3 separate regions of the Homo sapiens genome follow, and all the other regions are linked to region 1. Evidence: fine-mapped expression QTL. A gene starts in region 1. Each other region holds a variant in brackets. All regions are shown on one strand. Distances are from middle to middle. Region 1 holds the start of REELD1 (reeler domain containing 1). Region 2 overlaps LINC01095 (long intergenic non-protein coding RNA 1095). Region 3 overlaps LSM6 (LSM6 homolog, U6 small nuclear RNA and mRNA degradation associated).

Evidence for each region. PIP is the estimated chance that this variant, and not a neighbour inherited with it, causes the effect.
Region 2: its variant is the best candidate, but not a certain one, in a credible set for the expression of REELD1 in whole blood (TOPMed, PIP 0.86).
Region 3: its variant is the best candidate, but not a certain one, in a credible set for the expression of REELD1 in whole blood (INTERVAL, PIP 0.81).

Annotation. Positions count from the first base shown.
Region 1 is chr4:146,211,765-146,218,789 of GRCh38, reverse strand. REELD1 (reeler domain containing 1) reads right to left here and starts at 4,252. Exons shown (of 8, transcript NM_001354631.1): 1 at 4,096-4,252; 2 at 3,592-3,714; 3 at 1,630-1,848. The coding sequence starts at 1,837.
Region 2 is chr4:146,110,454-146,117,478 of GRCh38, reverse strand. LINC01095 (long intergenic non-protein coding RNA 1095) reads left to right here. Exons shown (of 6, transcript NR_038331.1): 2 at 3,014-3,187; 3 at 3,723-3,837; 4 at 5,729-5,878; 5 at 6,006-6,168. Among named protein-coding and RNA genes, the nearest start is that of LINC01095, 7.9 kb to the left of the region's middle. The variant T/C (reference allele first, on the strand shown) is at 2,990.
Region 3 is chr4:146,178,214-146,185,238 of GRCh38, reverse strand. LSM6 (LSM6 homolog, U6 small nuclear RNA and mRNA degradation associated) reads right to left here. Exons shown (of 4, transcript NM_007080.3): 2 at 2,224-2,327. The coding sequence starts at 2,317. Among named protein-coding and RNA genes, the nearest start is that of LSM6, 6.0 kb to the right of the region's middle. The variant G/A (reference allele first, on the strand shown) is at 3,529.

The DNA.
Region 1 (7,025 bases):
TGCTGGGAGGGGCTGGATGCACTCTAGGGTGGATGGAGCCCCCAAAGAAGTGGCCTTCCTTGGGGAGCCTCTTGCATTTGCCCCGGTGTGCTAAATACACAGACTCACTTTCTGTGTCATGATGTGACAAAGTTTGGGAAGCTCTATTAGAATAGACTTAATTCAGTATATTGGGGAGTATATTGATGTTGAACTCATATACTATCCACCCATGTTTTTTCACACTTCTCAAGAGAGCGAAATGAATGGGTAAAACAATATTTATAGAGTAAATTTCATTTTTGTTTATCACCTTTAGTTCCTATCAAAAGAATCAGCAAAAATCAAGAGGGGTTTAGGGCAAAAGTTGCTGATGTGTTGGAGCTCACCTTGGGTGCATAGTTCTCTGCCTACACTTCGTGGCATCTGAAGTATCTGTAGCTTCCTTCTCTGCTGTCCCTCACTGCCACTTCCAAGCTTGGTCCAAGGTAAGCTGTGGACTCTGAAGAGTGTGTGTGAGTTTGGGGAGTGGGGGCGGGGCATGGAGGTAGAAACACCCCTGGTGGGGGCAACCCGAAACTGGTAAGTTCCCTGCCCCTGCATCTTCCTGAGAGATGATTCAGAGGTGTTTCACATGGCTTCTCAGAGGGTCCCCACTGGAATGCACCTCGGTTGCCCACAGCAGAGACCTGCTCAGTTGCACGCCCTTGACTGGCATCTCCTCTTGCCCAGCTCCCTTTCCCTCTTCCTCACCTGTGTTTCCTGGGATGATCTCTCACATAAACCACCTGCGCTCACGTTCTTTCCCTGCTTTTATAGGCACCTAAACTAAAAGAACAGGAAATGATTTTTTCATCCCCCAATATTTTAATTTAAAAAATGTCAAATTGTATATATTTAAAGTATACAACATGATGTTTTGATATACTTACACATAGTGAAATGGTTACTATAGTCAAGCAAATTAAAATATCCATCATCTCACCAAAGTGTCTGTTGATGGATGAATTTTAGTTTTAAATAATGAGAAAAAAGTGTATTTCACACACATAGATGATACATGAAGGTTGTTCAGAGTAACTATATTTGTGTCCGTAATAAGATACATTTATATCTTATGGTAAGGACAAAATAATTATCTATAATAATATTTGTGTCTTCTTATACAGATCACAATTAATACAGAGATTAGTTATCATGTGGTTTTTATGACACAAATATTTTATGCTTATTTTTAACCTGATAATTGCTTCTTAAGATTAAGCCAGGCTGGGCATGGTAGCTTGTGCCTGTAATCCCAGCACTTTTGGAGGCTGAATCAGGAGGTTCACTTGAGCCCAGGAGCTCGAGACCAGACTGGGCAACATACAAAGACCCTGTCTCTAAAAAAAATACAAAAAATTAGCAGGGCACAGTGGCATGTGCCTGTAGTCCCAGCTTCTTGGGAGCCTGAGGTGGGAGGATCACTTAAGCCCAGGAGTTTCAGACCAGCCAGGGCAACACAGTGAGACTCCATCTCTACAAAAAACAAAAAAAAGGGATTAAGCCAAATTTAGTCCAGGAAGCTTCTGACTGGGACAAACACAAACTGGAAGGTCCATGGGGGCTCTGGGGCTCCTCGGAGTCTCTCTAAGCCTCTCTGGTACATACCTGGAATCTTGTCACCTGGTGCATAGGAAGTCCTGTGGGTGTGGATGGTGATGTGGTGGCTGTCCTGGTGCTGAGGCTGGGCTTGGATGTGCTTGGGCTGCATGTCATCACAGGCCACCGTGCTGGCACCATGGGAAAAGGCAGATGAGCAGGAAGCCAGGCAGAGGGTGGTACAAGCCCAGCCCACGAGGGCAGCCTGCATCCTCATCCTGCCCTCTCCTGTATCATGACAAACAGCAGCTTCAGTCCAGACGTTATTTAGGAAAACGACATAAAGTCTTCTCGGGATGTGACTAACCTGAACCCCACACTGCCTCTGTACCTGAGATGCTTTTAGTGCAGCCTCCCAGGATTGCTAATGTTCAAGGCCAAGATCAAAAGGAAATGCCAGGCTATAGGAAGTGTTTCATTTCCAAACACCTTTTTAAAAACTTCTGTTCTTGTAATTTTCTCATAAGACCAGACTGCTTTTTTTGTTGTTGTTCAAAAGAGAGGCTTTAATTATTGAGTCAAAGAAATAAAACCAGAAAATGTTTGTATCCTAGCGTGAGCTCCTTGCAAGCTGACTGGTACCCAAAGGCGGTGTGGCCTCTGATACATTATCTGAAGTAGACACTCAATACACCACCATGGTCAGGCAGCATGGCATGGGATGGCTTGGCTGAGCATCTTATCTCTGTTGCAATTGAAAATTACCAAGTTAAGTGCTACAAAACATCTACCAACTATCAATTATTTAGAAGTGACTGTTAAGCTGGCAATGCTTTGATATCTCTTTGCCCTTTCTTTGGCTGTTTTTAGCTATTTCACTACTTTTAGTAAAGAAGATGAGCAGAGAAAGAAATACTCAATTTATTCTATAACTTCTTAAACATACTGATAACAATTTTGGCTCAGGAATAGAATACAATGATTGAATAAAATAGCATTTATAGAGTAAATTTTATTTTTGTTTACTACCTCTAATTCCCATCAAGAGGAAGAATTAAAATTTGGCAATGTAAAAGAAGATGACAAAAATAAAATGAGAGATAGCAAACAAGGCAGATGAAAATCTGCCTACATAAATATTTAGGATTATCACAGGCATTTTTTAACAGTTCTGTTTTAGGCCAGGTGCGGTGGCTCACGCCTGTAATCCTAGCACTTTGGGAGGCCGAGGCAGGTGGATTGCGTGAGCACAGGAGTTCAAGACCAGCCTGGGCAATACGGTGAAACCCTGTCTTTACTAAAATACAAAAAATTAGCTGGGTGTGGTGGCATGTGCCTATAGTCCCAGCTACTCGGGAGGCTGAGGCAGGAGAATTGCTTGAACCTGGGAGACCAAGGTTGCAGTGAGCTGAGATCATGCCATTGCACTCCAGCCTGGGCAAAAGAGCGAGACTCTATCTCAAAAAAAAAAAAAAAAGTTCTGTTTTTTTTTTTATAGTCCTGCACACAGGCATTTTAGAAGTTTGGCTAATTTTTTGACCTAAGGAACAATGCAAGGCAAAAAAAAAAAAAAAAAAATGCCCTCCCCTGTAGTCAGCTGGTTTTAAAAGGTGAAAATAAAATCCTGAAAATGTAGTAAAACTAGCTATCAGAACAATAGACTAAGGAAATAATCCATAAACCAAATAATCAAGTGTCCTCCACTCCCATTGTCTCTTCACACAACACCACCTTTTACATTCACAAGCTAAAAGAAGACAGGAATATGATCTATACCTCAAATTTCTTAGACATAAGAGTCCTTCAGACAATGCCTTTCTTTTCTAAGTTTGTTTTCTATGAAGCACCAAAGTCACACATCTCCATACTACAAGGAACCATGGCTACAGCTTCTCAGACACATTAGGAGATAATGAAGATGAACTGTGTAAAAGCACATTCTCAGTCAAGGGGGCTCAGGGTTCTTCTCATTTTCTTTCATAAGGGCCACATACAAAATGCCCCTTGAATGCTGGGCATGGTGGTGCGCACCTATAGTTCCAGTTGCTCAGGAGGCTGAGGCAGGAGGATCACTTGAATCCAGGAGGTCGAGGCTGCAGTGAGTTATGATCACATCACTACACTCCAGCCTGGGTACAGAGCAAGACCCTGTCTCTTAAAAGAAAAGAAAGAAATGAAATGAAAATGCTCCTCAAGTCCTTGCTGATGGCAAGTGGTCTTTCCAAAGGCAGATCAGACACAGTTGCCTACAAGGGAAGGGGAGTGAGTGCCTGGACTCACAGACTACGGCCACAGCCCCACCTCCCACCCTCCTGCCTTAGGTTTCACTGTGTCTTCTTTCCCACTAGCATCTTGTCTACCTGAACCCTGAAAACTATCCACTTGGAGCTGAGCATGGTGGCTCACACCCGTAATCCCAGCACTTTGGGAGGCCGAGGCAGGAAGATCACTTGAAGCCAGAAGTTCAAAACCAGCCTGCGCATCACAGGGAGACCTTGTCTCTACAAAAATAAATAAATAAAAACATCCACTTACCTAGGAACACAGTTTTCTTCAGGCTTGATAGAATGGCTTCCTCCCGCAGAGTTGCAAACACATCCCTTAAACATAAGTATTTTCTTCTCCTTTCAGTTTTTCCTCTAATGGGGAGAATAACAGCTGCTACCACTAATCCTCAGCATCTCCAGGAACTGTTCCTCAGTGTCCAAATCCAACCTAAATCGTATTAGCACACACATACACACACACACACACACACACACACACACACGGTTTACAGTCACATCATTGTTCAAGCCTGCGTGAAGAACTAGAAAGAACCGGAACTGGTTTTGCACAGGACTGGCACTGACATCCTTGGCAGAAGCTGGATGCCTCCATCTTGATCTCCCTGCAAAGGGGAGAATGTTTGAATGAAATGCATCTCAGCATTCTTGGCTTCTTGAGTCAGTGTGGACTGAAGTTACTCTTGGTGAAATAGAATTGATACGTTAGCCCAAGAGCAACGTTTGGTACAAAAAAATAACACGTGGCATAGGCACCTCCCGTATCAATTGCACTAAAGCTGGAGTTCACATTTTCATTCATCTAAGAATCTGCTGAGACACCTGATAATACCAGAGAGCCTATAGATCAGTGTTCCTCAATGTGTGGTCCCTAGAGTGCAACACCAGCATCACCTAGAAGCTTGCAACATTAACAATGAAGAAAAAGAGAGAGGAATGGATTTGGGAGATCAGGAGATCAGGTGGAGGTAGGATTTGGTGGCTGTTTGAATGCAAGGCGTCCAAGAGAGAATCCTAGGATTGATAGTCCTGGGTGATGTGGAGTAGGGGGCTGCAGAGAGAGCAATGTTCTGACTGTTAGGCCTTGTCTCCACTCAGAAAAAACTAAAGCTATGAGTGACTGAATAGGCAAGGCACTGGCTTAGGGACCAGGTTGCTAAGCCTTTTGTTGCAAGTGTAAATGAGACTATCTATCCTATAAACACCAAGGGAAATTGGGCTTCCTTGGCCTAGGATACCAGTATTCCCCACACACAGAACAAAAGCAAACAAATTCAATTTGGTTTCTCTAAGCTTCTATCCCACTAGGATTGGAGGCAATCTCAATCTCCCACTGAGTCATGAGAAATTCTGGGAGGTCTAGAAAATTAGGATACATTCCTTCCATGGCTGCTGTTATGATAGTTTTCAGAGCTCATGTGGTCACTTGAAGACTGTTAGTTGGAAGGCTTCTATGCCAAAAAGGGGCTCAGGTCTTCAGCAAGGCTGTGGCCTGGGTTCTTCCCACCCCCTCCACTGGGTCCTGACACAGATCTCTGCCCCTAGCAGGAGAGTGGCTAACCTCTTCTCCACTCCACTCTGCTCCTATCCCAGTCTTAGAGACAAAAGTGTCCCTCCTCTCCTTTTTTTTTTTACTCTCACCCCATTACCCTGGGCCACCTGGCATAATCCACCTACCACAGGTAGAGTGGTAATCTCCAACACCTCAGCTTTGCCCCTGAAACACAAACTCCCTGGATATACGGATTCTCAAAAGGCCCAACTACCAATTAGAATGAGGAGAGGAGTGCAAAGGTAGAGAGAGCGCACCTGCATGGCTCAATAAATAATCCTGCCATTTGCTCATGTAATATTTCTTGTTGAAAATCAGGAGGACACCATATCTTAGACATGGCCTTATCCTGCCTGCCACACCCACAGCCTCTGCTGAGCCGGCAGCGCATCTTATGCCACTCTCCCGACAAAGCTGATTGTACCAGGGGGGCATTCATCACAGGCGAGGGCCCTGCTGACTCAGGGCTGAGACAGAAACTCTCCCTGGGAATCTGACCAAGAACACATACAAGGCTACTCTATACGAGTGCTGGCCAATAGAAATAGAATGCAAGCCACATATGTAATTTAAAATTTTCTAGGCCGGACGCAGGGGCTCACGCCTGTAATCCCAGCACTTTGGGAGGCCAAGACAGGCAGATCACCTGAGGTCAGGAGTCCAAGACCAGCCTGGCCAACATGTTGAAACCCCATCTCTACCAAAAAATACAAAAATTAGCCAGGGATGGTGGCACGTGCCTGTAATTCCAGCTACTCTGGAGGCTAAGGCAGGAAAATTGCTTGAACCTGGGAGGTGGAGGTTGCAGTGAGCTGAGATCTTGCCATTGCACTCCAGCCTGGGCGACAGAGTGAGACCCTGTCTCAAAAACAAACAAACAAAAAAATTGGACTCTCCTTATTTTTAAAAAACGTGAAAAGGAACAAAAGACATTTGTTTTAATAATAAATTTAGTCAATTCAATATATTGAAAACATTTCACATGCAATCAGCATATAAAATATCATTAGTGAGATATTTTGCATTCTTTTTTTCACAGTAAGTCTTTGATATCCAGTGGTATTTTACACTTACAGCACGTCTCAATTCAGACTAGACACATCTCAAGTGCTCCGGAGCCACATGTGGTAAGCTGCTACCATATTTATCAGCGCAGGTCTGTACAAAGGAAGGTGGTTGAGCCATAGGTCATGGTGTGGGGTCAGACCTGAGGCCGTATTGTACCACGTGCAGGATGTGTAAGAGGCATTGAGGGGACAGGATAGTAATTAAACATAACAGCATATTTATATAATGCCTGCACAGTACCACACACTATTCTAGTCAGCTAGTTGGCAAATTACCTCATCGATACAGCAACACAATGAGGTCTGCACTATTGTTATCTCATTTTATGGATAAGGAAACTGAGTCACAGTGTTTCTGTAACTTGCCAAAAGTTCCCACAGCATTCAGGAAGTGATAGATAAGGTTTTTCCCTACAGTTTTGCTATAGAATAGCTTTGTAACATAATCTACAAGATGAAGATAACTACCAGTTCCTGTACCTGCATCCCGAAGTGCTGGTGAAGTTTCAGTGAGGTAATAAATAATAAGGAGTTGGTACTTAGTATGGGGTTTGAGACAAA
Region 2 (7,025 bases), 100 kb after region 1:
ACTCCCCAATACCATGTACATACTGAACCCAGAAGAGGGGAGAAAAGAAGGAAGGATTGTGCATAGGAGTTCCTTTTGAAGAAGTGACATGGAGGTTAGACACATCACTTCTGCTCACATTTCCCTGATGAGAATTTAGTCACATGGCCATGCCTGGCCACAAGGAAGGTTGGAAAATTTAGTCTCTAAAATTAGAGCAATTATTTCCCCTTTTCCTTTTAGGAACAGAGCCTCCTGTTTTCACCAAACCTAACAATGATCAGCCACACTGACTCTGATTGAGTTAAGTAGAAAAGAAGTTTATTAAAAGATGACCAAGGAGCTCACAGAAACACCAGGAAATTTTGAGAAGGTTCAGAAAACAGGTAGAAGAAGAGAGACTCTAGGTATCTAGAACCCAAGTACAAATCATGCCACAAGAACATGAGCAATGGGCACTGCTGCTAATAGCACTAGACACTGGACATCAGAGCTTGCACTTGCCACCAGCAGAGGAAACCAGTGAATGTTACTTTATAGGGCAAAGGGGACTTTGCACATGTAATCTTGGAAGAGTATCCCGGATTACTTAGGGCTCAGTGTAACCACAAGGGTCCTTATAAGAGGGATGCAGGCGATCAGAGGGAGAAGTAGGAGAGGTGATGACCGAAGCAGAGATTGAAGTGATGCAGCCACAGGCCAAGGAATTCTGGCAGTCACTAGAAGCTGAAAAGGGCAGGCCCCAGCTCTCCTGAAGCTCTCAGAGGAAGCAATCCTGTCAGTTCCTTGATTTTAGCACTAATGTCAGACTTCTGACCTCCAGAATTGTAAGATAATAAATTTGTGTTCCTCACCACAATCAAGCTAATTAACATTTCCATCACCTCACATAGTTACCATTCTTTTTTATTTTTTATTTTTATTTCTTGGTATGGTAAAGACACTTGGGATCTACCCTCTTAGCAAATTACAGATATACAATACAACATGATCATTGTGTTGGTTTCAGCTTCAAAGGGTCAGGTAACCTGTTACAGCAGCAATAGAAAAATGAACACAGCAGCTTTTGCCTGGAGACTCTCCATTGGCCAAGCCAAGATTGTCTCAGAATTCTGCTGCACTCTGAGGCTCTTCCCACCATTCTTTGTTTCTCATTATCCTTTTACAGTTGTTAGACCTGTCTCCCAATCTAATGGCTCTCTCCAACTCCCACTCCCTTTCTCTTTATCCTCCAGAGCCATTTTCCCTAATGAATTTCTTTCCCTAATAAATCTCGAATCCCATCTTGGCATCTGCTTCTTGGATGTTCTCAACTAAATAATGCTACCAATCCTACTCTCTCTTGTGCCCCAGGAAACTGGAGGCTTTAGCTGCCTTCTACCCCACCACCCCACTCCTCAGAATAGACTCTCTACCACTCCTCTTCATCGGTTCACTAGCTTCCAATGCAAAGTCCTGGGGTGGTGCCTGACTGGCCAAGCCTAGGTCACATGCCCCCTCTCCAGGGCAGGAGGCTGGAAAAACAAGTCTCTGGCCTATTTGACCTCCATAGTGGAGGTCTCTAACCCTCATGGAGACTCATACAGTGAGGACATCCCTAAACATAAAAAGTGGGTTCATGTGCTACCAGGTACCCCCAATGTCTATGACAATATCCCTCCCTCAAATATTGTGAATCCCATCCTGTGTGAACAAGAAACATGTAGTCTTCTTTTGCAAGAACTTCTGAAGATTTGTCAGGGAATGCTTACACCAGCTCCGTGCTTCCTCTTGTCATCTCCCAACCTTATCTCTCTGTTAATCGGTTGCCCCCTGTGGACACCAGCTCCTCTCTTTATTCCAACATGGCTGACACCAGCCATAGAGAGTGACAAAACTTTACTGAGGGTTTGAGAATAACATGAGGAGTCATACCACATGCCTTAGTCCATTTTGCGTTGTTATCAAGAAATGCCTGAGGCTGGGTAACTTACAGAGAAAAAAGATTTATTTGGCTTACTATTCTGATGGGCTGGAAGGTTCAGGATTAGGCATCTGCCATTAGGACCTTGGGCTGCTTCCACTCACGACACGAGAGGAAGGAAGCTAGTGTATGCAGAGATCATATGGAAAGGAAGCAAAAGAGAGGTGAGGGTGCCGGGCTCTTTGTAACAACCAGCTGGATCGGGAACTAATGAGATGAGAACTCACTCACCCCTGAGGGAGAGTATTAATCAGTTCATATGGGATCTTCCTCCATGACCCAAACCCCTCTCATAAAGTCCCACCTCCAACACTGGGATCAAATTTCAACATGAAGTTTTTTGGGGTACAAACATCCAAACCACAGCACCACCAAAAGGGAGATAGAAAATTCTGTATCACTGCTCCTAAAGCAGATTGGTCATAACCCCATCGAAGGAATCCCTTGGAATTAAACTCTGCTCTTAAGCTCCTGCCTGCCACTGTGGTGCTAAAGTCCATTTCTCCTCCTCTCCATGAGCCCCCTGTTTTATCACCACTCTGCCCATCTCCACTCTTCCCTGGCCTGCTTCTTTCCTGAGGAAGCCATAAAATATATTAGAGAAAAAAAAAATCTCTGATGAGCAGCTTAGCTTTGCTCCATCTTAATCTGTTTCTTCCAGAATAGAAGCATGGCCCTATCTTTGTTTAACTAAAGAGCTTATATCGGTGTTTTTCAAATCAAAAGGATAGTCTCCCTGAAAATGAATTCTGCCTCAATCTCTAGAGTCAGAGGTGCAAATTCTAGGTAGATTTAAAAATAGCAGTGTCCCTAGGATGGTTAATTTCAGGTGCCAACTTGACTGGATTAAGGAATACTTAGAGAACTAGTAAAGCATTCTTTCTGGGTGTGTCTGTGAGATGGTTTCCAGAGGAGACTGGAGTGTGTGTCAGTAAACTGAGTGGGGAAGACCTGTCCTCAATGTGGGGGCATCATCCAAATGGCTGGGGGCACAGATAAGAACAAAAAAGGCAACAACAGCACATACACAAAAAGAGATTTTTTTTT[T/C]TCTCTCTCTCTCTCCTGGAGCAGGGACACTCTTCTCCTCCTGCGGTTGGACTCCAGGCTCTATGACCTTCAAACTCCAGGACTTACACCAGTTGCCCCTGGGCACTCAGGACTTCTGCTTCAGACTGACAGTTGCAGGACAGTGCAGCATTTTATTTTAAAGATACCCCACAACGTAGGTGGCCAGTCCTGCTGCAGGTGCGGTTTCAAGCCTTTGGAGTTTGACCTTCTAGTCCAAGGTCATTACAGCTGCAGGCAGAGGCTCCCGCGGGGAAAAGAGCATTTCCTGGGACGCTGGAACTAAATGAATGGCCCACTCTCCAGTTCAGCCCTTGCCTCCTTCCCGACACATAAAGTTCAAGAGCCACGGTCCTGAGTGCATAGGAACAGCCCCATCACCCTTCTCCCTCTGGGCAAGCTAGGAGCAGCGGTGCGAGGCTCCATTTCTTCTTCTCTGCCTCCTGGACCTCAGCCACCTCTGCTCAGGCACAGGCCAGCTGCCCAGGCGTCCTCATCTGGCGACCAGCTCTGACCGCAGCCCTGGTCTGCTCTCGGGGTCGGGCCCACACCCCTCTTCTTCCTCCTCTTCCTCCCAAGGCCTGGGCTCGGGTCCCTCTTCTCACCTTTCCCTTTCTTGCGTTGCAACCGTAACTTGGGAAAACCCTTCTTGATCTTCCTCTCTCACCTCCTTTCAAACACATGCTTGCAGGCTTTTTCCCGATCTCATCCTTAGGGCAGATACGCTCCCTTGATTCTGAGGTCTTTGAACTTGCTGTGAAGCCACACTACCTGCGTCCCAGGGTCTCCAGCTTGCAGATGGACTGTGGTGGGACTTCTCAGTCACCAAGGTCGTGTGAGCCAATTCCCCTAATACATCCCCTCTCATCTATCTATATCAGTAGAGATACCAATATCAGTACAGATATAGCTCCTATTGGTTCTGTCTCCCCAGACAGCCCTCACAAACACGGTTCCTGAACCCACCTCACACTGCTCCACCCCACACCCAGACAAACGCACACATAGAGGTAGGCAGGTAAATACATAGATCAATAGATTTATGTAAACTGTGAGCATCACGCCTGAAGAGAACTCCCTATTTCCACACCGTGTTGCCACAGCACTCCTACTTCCCACATCTGCCTCCAAATTGGCATTCTTCCTTCCATCTCTGCTCATAGGTCAGGCGACCCACCATGAGGTCACACCCCTTGCCGAGGACCACAGTTTCACAGACACTGTGCCTTCCAGCCACCCCGCTGTCCTGCGGCAGCCATGGGAATGTGGTGTTTCAGCAGTCCTCGCGGTGTTCCTCATGCTGACCCTGCTGAGTTCCAGCCATCTCACCGGATCCAGTGGCTTGGGAGTTTGGGTTCATAAGGATTTGAGCTCTGCTAACATCCCTGACAGGAAAGAAGCAGAGTAGCTTTTAGGGACAAACCATTCCAAGGAGAAGGATCACTGCACAAGGACCCTCTCACTCTCTCCCCAGAATCTCCCCTCTCTCTACAGTGCTCTAAATTCTGTCCTCATCACCCCTGCAGTGTCTCTTCCCCATTTCTCCTCTACCATAGACATAGACAAAGCATCACCCAAAAAGGGAGAGGGAAATATGACTGGGAATTCTTTAGAGGTGAGTGGAGTTAAGAACCTGAGCTGGATTCTTCTCTTTTACAAAGCAAAACTAACTAAATACATAAAAATTTAAATTTATTTTCCTTTCTTCCTTGGTCCAGTGAAGACTGGACTCTTCAAAGTGGACTTTGGTAAAAACAAAAGAGAAAGTTAAAAAAATTAAATTCTAAAGGCTAAATTTACACTATAGAGATTTTTAATAACTGAATTCTGGTAACAAGTTGGTTGACTCAAGCTAAGATTCTTTTCCTTCCACTTCTGCTTTCTTATTGTTGTTTTTGGTTTTATTTTTGCATTTGTGCTGTCACACACAGGATTTCTCCTCCTTTCATTTATTTCCACCAGCAGACCTGCACCAATACAAAAATGTGCCCTGTTAATAATAATAGCTGCTGTTTATTGATTATTTACCACATCCAGGTACTTCATGTAAGAATGCTATACTGTAGCTAATTAAGATAATCACAGAAAATTATCAATAGGTAACTTCGGTTACTATTTTCTACATGCTAGCTTTTATTCTCACTTCATCCTTACCATCATGCTAGGAGGATAGGTATTATTATCACCATTTTAGAGATGAGAAAAGTGAAGTAAATACTATTAATTTCATTTAGAAGATAAGTAGATGAGGCTTAATCACACAGTTATTAAGTGGCAAAGACCGGATTTGAATCAAGATATCTGATTTTTAAAATTCACCTTGTTTCAAAGCATTTTACTTCACCTAAGAAGTTAATACACCTCACAACCAGATAACTCCTTCTTTTCAATTAGACTGTGTCTGTATCTGGGATCAGTTGCGAAGCAGAAGTATGACGTGACTAAGGCCACCGCTGGGTTAGGATACCCCCATCCAAGGTCAGGTTCTTAACTTCACTTAGCTCTGAAGACTTACGATTAGTTTTTCCTCTCCCATTTTTTGGGTAGCCCTTTCTCTTCTTTTCTGTGGAAAAATTTGTAACTTACCAGAACAGTTCACAATATGACAACATTGTAGTGGTGACATCACAGAGACAGAAGGAGGAAGAATGGCAACCCTTGGACTCCTGGGGATGTGGGAGCTCCTTGACCACATGTGGTACCTCTCTTTCCTGATCCCAGATTGAGAGCTGTACTAGCCTGGCATGCAGACAGCAGCTTTAGAATCAGATCTGCCTTCTGGCGGCTTCCCACCTAGGAGCCATGGGACCTTTGTGAAGTCACCAATTGTGCTGTGGATGCTTCATTTGTGAAGGAGAACAGGACTGCCTTGTAAGTTGCAATATGCGTTAGAAATAGCAAATAAACAGTACTTAACTCATAGGAGGCCTGTGATAAATGGGAGCTTTTATCATAGACTGACTTTCCTGCTCCTGTTTTGCTTCTTCTTTATGTTTAGGTGAAATTACGGATGGTGCTACTAAAACATATCAATAATTTGAATTTCACTTTTGTGGATGCTTTAAACATCATAGTCATTAGAAGGTGGATCTGGCTGATTGTACTTTAAGTTTTCAGTTTGAGCTGGAGCTTTGTATTATAACAGGAGGGTACTGGACAAGGTGAGTTGCTGATAGCCTCCCCCCACCTGCCAACAGACCTATCATTAGATGGAATGTAATGGACTTTGGCCAGTTGTTCTCCACCCCAGCTCTGACTTAGCGGCTCTGGCAAGAATGGATATATGAGCCTAAATACAGAGCTTGTTGTGCTACTTTTGGCTTTCCTTGTCATTATTTCTTCCTCTAAATTCAACAAATCATTACTTCCTCTTTTATTATGTTTTAGTATGAGTGTTTTAATACCACAGATATTCAAAATAAGCCTGTGGGAGACACTGGGTTATGAGGTGATCATACATTGTTCCTTTAATTTTCAGAACAACACAATAAGATAGGGACCCTGTCCCAGAGATGACTACATTGAAGTTCAGAGAGTTTAAGTAACTTGCCCAAAGTCACATCGCTAGTGAATAGCAAAACGAGGATTCAAGCCTAGGCCTGCCTATTTTCAAAGTTTATGGAAGGAATTAAAACATTTCTTAGTCTAATTTTCTCGGAGTTTTGTTCTGCTTTGTTTTGTTTTGTTTGGCTTACTTTCTTCATCAGCCTAATACCTGCTTCAAGTCTAAGTGAAGCTTTCACCTCTGCCTGGAAGTCTTCCCTGTCCCTGTAGGCTGTCAGGTGGCCTTCTCCCAGCCCCCATAGCATCCAGCATAGAAGCTGATCACAGCACTTACCACCCAGTGAAAAGTGTGGGCACAGTCCTGTCGGCCCCTTCCTCCTAGACTGTGCACCCTTGGGCAGCATGCTTTGCTTCCACAACACTTGCTACTTAGCAGGGGCTCAGGGCAAATGTGTGGACTTGAGCTGCCAAATTGAAGCCATAGGTCAATATTAGAACTAAACACTAGTGCTAA
Region 3 (7,025 bases), 34 kb after region 1:
AACATGAAGGATAAACCCAAGTTCCCTGATGCAGGGCCATGGAATACTCTCTGACTTGTAAATCCTAGCCCAGGGAATTGATTCTAAAGAGATGTTTGGTCAACTTCACAATATATGTCAAAGTAGAAGAGTTGTTTATAGTGGCAAAAAACTGGTCAACACCTAAATGTCCATTAATAGGAAATTGGTTAACAGTAAAAGCAAAACCATGGTACAGCCACACAAGAGATTCCTATGCAGCCATTAAACCCTCTATATTATTACAAAACTAAATGTACTGTTTCAACGTTTAAAAAAAAAATCAGGTTGCATGTAGTTGACTCCATTTATGTCAAATTATGCTAATATAGAGGTCAAAATTGGTAAACTGTCTCTGGATAGTAGCATTGGGGATCCTTGGCTTTCTTCTATATACTTTTCTGTATTATTTCCTTTTACATTTCTAAAATTAAAACAAAACTAAAACATGTATTGCCTTTATAAATAGAAAAATTTTCCCTAAAGAGTACAGAGAAAAAAGGTCAGGCTGGTTCATCTCTTCAATAAAGTGGGTACTGAGAAGACATTGAACACAATGTCCTCACTTTAATCAACTGTCAAACAGATTAAAACCCCTAGAAGTCTATTACTTCCTATGGGCCCATCATCAAAAGTTCGCAGGTGAGAGGCAGTACACGGAGACATTATACTACCTCAGTATTCCGTATGAATCCATTAATTTTACTATAAAAATAAAATTAAACTGGAGATACGTTATTAATGTCAAGAAGCTAAAGGAGTACATAATCACCAGAGTGGTTTCTTAACAAGGCTTATGAGCCGAGCCTGAACTTGAGTCCTAGCTCCTCCTCTACTAGGTGGGGATAATCAATAGAGATTTCAAAGGAAAAAGCTCAAGAGATTACTATGACTATTAATTATTCAGAAAAGAGACCAAAAAAAGGCCACAAAAACCTGTGCTATGGTTTGAATGTGTCCCCTCCAAAATTCAGGTGTTTGGCAATAGGAGAGTATTAAGAGGTGGGGGCCTTTAAGAAGCAAGCAGACCATGGGGACTTGCCCATTAATGGGATGAAGGCCTGCATTAAAAAAAAGTCTTCACGCAGTGTGCTGGTTTGCCCTCTGCCTTCTGCCACGTGAGGACTCAGCATTCCTCCTCTCTGGAGGACGTAGCCCTCACCAGACAACTGAACCTGCTGGCACCTTGATCTTGGATTTCCTAGCCACCAGAACTGTGAGAAAATAAACTTCTGTTTTTGAAAATTACCCAGTCTAGAGGCGGAGCTTGCAGTGAGCCGAGATCGCGCCGCTGCACTCCAGCCTGGGTGACAGAGCGAGACTCCGTCTCAAAAAAAAAAAAAAAAAAAAGAAAATTACCCAGTACAGTGCTCAGGTGACGGGTGCACCAAAATCTCAGAAACCACCACTAAAGAACGTATCTATGTAACCAAAAAAACCACCTGTACCCCCAAAAACTACTGAAATAAATAATAAAAAAAATACAAAAAATGAAAATAAAAATGACCCAGTCTGTGGTATTCTGTTATAGCAACCCAAGAGACCACGTCCCTCTGCTAATGAATCAGTTATAGTTACACCTGCCAAATATTTCAGGTAACTTAACATACCTTAGCTTGGAAGATAAGAAATTCAGTAACTTTAAAAAACGGAATTTAAAACCATTCTTCCTATAAAGTTAATTTCAAAAGCACTGCAGCCTCTTAAAAATAATATTCTCTCCAAGAACAGAAAGGCATTTTTTTTTTTGAGACAGAGTCTCACCCTGTTGCCACACACATTATACGTTATATGAGTGGGACATTCAGGTTGTAAAATGATACTCAACAGCTGCTTGCCAATCTTGAATACTCCTGCAAAAACAAATGCTGCTGCACCAAGATGTTCTTCAGTTGTGTTGTTCATACCTGAGTTCACTAGGAATACCTAGCTATTACCAGGGAATTTAGGCACATATGATCTCAAAGCAGAGACAGGAGACAGAAGTCACACAAATCACACTGAAAGGCAGAAGCACATGCTATACTGTCAGAGTTGTCCTTCTAAAAGGAATGATCTCAGAGATAGAAAAAGATATATGCATAAAAACTACTGATGACCAGTACTTTTTTGGCCTATTGGGTATACTTAAGAGGTTAATAAATATCAGTAAGTCACATTTACTTATTCAGTTATACCAGTGAGGTTGAAACATGAAAATATTACCTCGATAATCCACTCCAGAATTTAATTTTACCACAACTGGTCGTCCGATGATTTGCTTTAAGAAGTCACTAGGGGTTTGCTTCCGAAGACTCATTTTAACAATCCTAAATCAAAATATGAAAAGGAACAATAAAAGGTAAAGACCAAAGTTGATTATTCAACAAAACCCTTAAAGCCCTTAACATACTTACAGAAAATGAAGTATCAAAGGACCATGCGAGAAGACGCGTATTACTCCACTGCTACTACATGACAGCTAACATGTTTTCAGTACTTACTATGAGCCAGATACTAAGCTAAACATTCTACATGCATTATCTTATCAGTACCCACAACACCATGGCACAGTCTCATTAGGGAAAGTCCTGTGTTTACAAAAGCACCTGCTCTTAATCACTTATCATTACTGCCTGACACATAGTCAGTATACCCATTACAACCATTACCACTTCCATTCAGTGAGTGGTTGGTTATTTTATGCAAAGCATTCTGCTAAGGTCTTTATAAACACTATCACATTTCATCTTTACAAGAACCATGGGAAGAAGGTCTTAATACCCTCATTTTGCTGATGAAAAGTAAAGGCACAGAAAGATTAAATAATTTGTTCCCAAATGTGATGGAACATTCAAGTTCAAATCAGCCCTATTTTAAAGTCCGTATTATATAGAACAGACATATTTATGAACAACTGATGCCTAAATGGTATCTCTGAAAAGAATTATAATCTAAAGGTAATTTTGAGTGTACTATATGCCAGCACTTTTCCAAGAACTTTATATATATTAATCAATTTAAATTGCTCTACCCTAAAAGGGAGGTATTGTTTTTATCCTCATTTTACACATGAAGAAGAAGACACAGAAAGATTAAACACTCTGCTCAAGGTCACACAGCTAGAAAGTGGATAGCCAGCCCATACTCTTAATCACAACCTTAAACAGCTTTCTGAAAGTCAATAACACAGTCAAAGATTTTTAATTACTCTATTAGGACTATAGCAGATATGTGCTCTAAATAATGAAGAAAAAAGTCTTAAAACTCAAGTATAACAGGAGTCTAACACAGAAAAAGAGATAGCATTACACACCCAAATCAACAGCATCAGACATGCAAAGCTGCACATCACTCCTTTCAAAACGCATCTTTTCTTATAAAATAGCTCTCTTTCAAAATATGTTGGTAAGTTAATAAAACTGTAGTTAAGCAAAAACTGAGTAAAAATATTTCAGAAATTAATTTTTCTGTTTCAGTCAAATTCAGCATCACTATTATTCAGCAGCTATATAGCACTGAGACTTAAAA[G/A]TTAGTATGGATACAATATTTTAAGGATTCCCTTCAAGAACTCAAGCTGTTCTTTTGTTTTCAATGAAATTTTTTCATTAAATATTCTTCCATTATTTTTTCATTAAACATTCTTCCACTATGCTTATTTCATTCTAAGTCCATCCACTCAATAATCTGAGTTTGTGTGGAGAAGGATTATTTGGAGACGTTCTCATAGTGAATTCACACGGGATCAGCAGTTGTAGTAAGCTGGAACTCTAGGTTACTGGGCTCAACAAATTACATGTACATGTACACACTGAGCAAGGAAATTCAAAAACATGTCATACACAAAGGCTCTGCCTTAAAGAACTTAAAATCTAGAAGAATTTAAACTCATTTAAAGAGTGTGAGTAAACAAACGCAATCATAATTTAAGTAAAATAATTTTATTTAGCCAAGAAAAGTCAACATCCTAAGTCAAATAAAAGAAAATACAAATTTCAGAAATTATCTTTGAATTTTGGGCTATCATTTGGACAATCTACACTGCCCCCAAGGTTTGAAAGATGTTTTTAAAATGCAATAAATTATTTTGCTCAACAAATGTTAACTTAACTTTTCCACTGAATTTCTAGCTTATTTTATTAGCTCCACAATCTCAACAGATAACTACAATTACAACTACTATTACAACTACTATTCAGGACAACCACTTTTCATTCAGGACTCAGATCACACAGTAATTTTATTTACACTGTTCTGAGTACAAAGTGAAAAAATACAAAATAAATACTGTAACAGATTCAGTACCTTTAATGAGTTTAGTGAAAATACACAAATCTTCCCATTCATCTATAAACCGCCTTATTTACATTTTGAATACATGCTGTTTTGAGGCTGAACACATCTAGAGAGAATATTAACTCTGAAGGCCTGATACTCAACTGATGAGTCAGGTGCATTTCCTATCACAGATGCTAAATCCCATTATGCCACAGTTTCATTATGTATAAAACTGAGATAAAAGTAGCTATTTTGTGTTAAAAATCACTAAAATGCTTTGTAATGTGATTCTAGTTCATGGAGATATTAACTACTTTAATTATTACTAATTTCATCTGCTCATAGAGTATTTACAGTTTCAGATTAAAAACATTTGAAAAGCAAAAGCTGGAAAGAGTTAATAACTGTCAGAAAAAAGAATGCAAATCTTGACTATCAGTTGCTTGACAGTATAGGTTATTTTAAAAGTATTATTAATATTAACTTTCCACACCTTTTTATAAACACAGATATGTTCTTCTAAGCTCACCAAAGATAACGCCTTGTCCATTATGCTTTATCTGTATTCCAATTAACATCAATCTCTTCCTGAAGGCAATCAACACTTCCAACTTTCACGGAGCACCTGTCAAGTTCAGGCGCACAGGGTTGGGGAATGTAACACAAAGACAAGGCCTTAAGCCCTCAGAGTTTACATTCCAGAGAGGGCAAGAAACATGTAAATGCAGAATTTTACAAAGGTGATGTGTATTCTGATAGAATTATGCACAAAAGGGCAGAGAACACTCTCTTACCCCAGGCTTGGCAGATCAAAGAATTTCTGGAAGTTAACACCTGAGCTGAATTTGAAGGAAAAGGCGTCACCCCCTAGCTGAAAGAAGAGAAGTCAGAAAAGGCACGGAACAAGTGTCTGGGTAGAACGTAAAATCTACATAGGCAAGGAGGAGACGCCTCTGCGGCAGGGAGCTGTGCCACATTCACAGGGAGCACAGAGTTGAGGCTCTGGGTCAGTTTCCCAAACTTGAATCATTAGGATCAGCTGGAGATTCTACTCAGTAGTTCTGGGGTAGGAGCCAGCAATCTATTTGAACAAGCCTAGGAAATAACTGGCAAGGGGAAATACTGTTGTCAATGATAGGAAACAGGGGTTTTAAGCAGGAACTTGCTTGGGTTCCACTCTCTACTTTCCATAGCAGAGTGCAGATGCCCATCTCACCTACTTTTGGCATCACATAGTTTGGCATTTGATTTTATTTGCTATAACCTGTCACTATGCCCTCTTTTGTATTCTTTATGTGGGTCTTTTCTCCCTCAAAATACTGTAAGCCACATGACAAGAGGGGCTCACAAGCTTCTCATCTGTTCTCTAGAATATCTACATTCTACTAAACCTCTTGGAAAAAAAATACTTCTAAGGTTATTTGGAAAAGAGTATATGGGTTGCCTCAAACACATTTTATCCATCACTTTAGGAAAGCCGTATCTTTTACATTAGTCTTCATTAGGCTTCCTTGCTACTCCCTGTTACTTAATGACTTGCCCATAAATCCATTTTGTATGAGTAAATTGGTCTTGACACCACAATTTTTCCCATCACTTGGCTCAAGTAATTTTAAGTTTTCATCTTTTAAATTGGATAAAGCAGAAGAAACAGTTCTGACAATTTCTGAAGCAAGAGATGAGTCTCTTGAACCATAAACACATAAGAGGAAAAAGACCTTTCTTCAGGGTCACCCTGGTAAAACTTCTCCTTTCAAAATTAAAGTCATAATCACTCTCTATACCTCCTCTCCCTCCCCTGACTCCTACTCAGGCTTGTTTTAAATGACCTATTTTCATAAATGACTATTAAGTCAAAGGCAGTATATTTTCTGTCAGAAGCTACTGAGAGGTCTAGTATGAAAACATCTGCAAAGTGCCCTGCAGGGAATTTTTTTCTTTTTGGTAAAAGAATGAAGAAAAAAAAGAACTTTTATTAACCCAACTATGTGCTACCAGAGTTAGATTCATAAGCAATTTACAGAGAAACCCTGTGAGGTGGAAAGCAAAGCCAAGGCTGACCCCAAAGCCCAAGCCCTTTCACAGGTACAGCTGCCCTTCTGAATATGTTAAGATTCTCTGGTTAAATCTTGGGGAATCGCAATAGAGGCGGTGAGAAATCCAGTTGGAGAGTAGCAGCACTGGGGAAAAAAAATACCTAACGTGACAAAGTGCTGTAAATTAGCCTCAGAGAAATACAATGGACAGATGCAAAGAAATCTATCTCATGTGATTTGAGTTATGCCACTGAGCAGAAGACATGAAAATCCTTATTTCTTGGCAATGTTTACCTGTAAGTTTTTACCTACTCCTGGCGTATTTACAGTTTAGGGTGAAAAGAATTTGAAAAGCAAAAATTGCAAGGAAACATTACAATCCAAGTAATTGCAGCACTAGACTAATAGATCAGTGTCTGAGGAGGCGATCAGATAGGCAGAAGAACAGCTCTCTAAATCCTCCCTTCGGACACAGTGGAGTTCCTCGCTGTCTTTTGAAGGCTTCATACCAATCCCTCCTTCCTCGGCAGCAGGGGCTACTTCTCTCCCTCTCTCCCAAAGGCGAAGTGAGTCCACTCAGAGCACCTCTTTCCACTCTCAGTCATGGCCCTTATCAGGCTGTTTCGTAATTTTTCCATTTGCTGACTGGTCTCCCGTGCGAATTTAAAGCTTCTTGGGGACAGGGAAAATATCTTACTCACTTGGTGTCCCTGG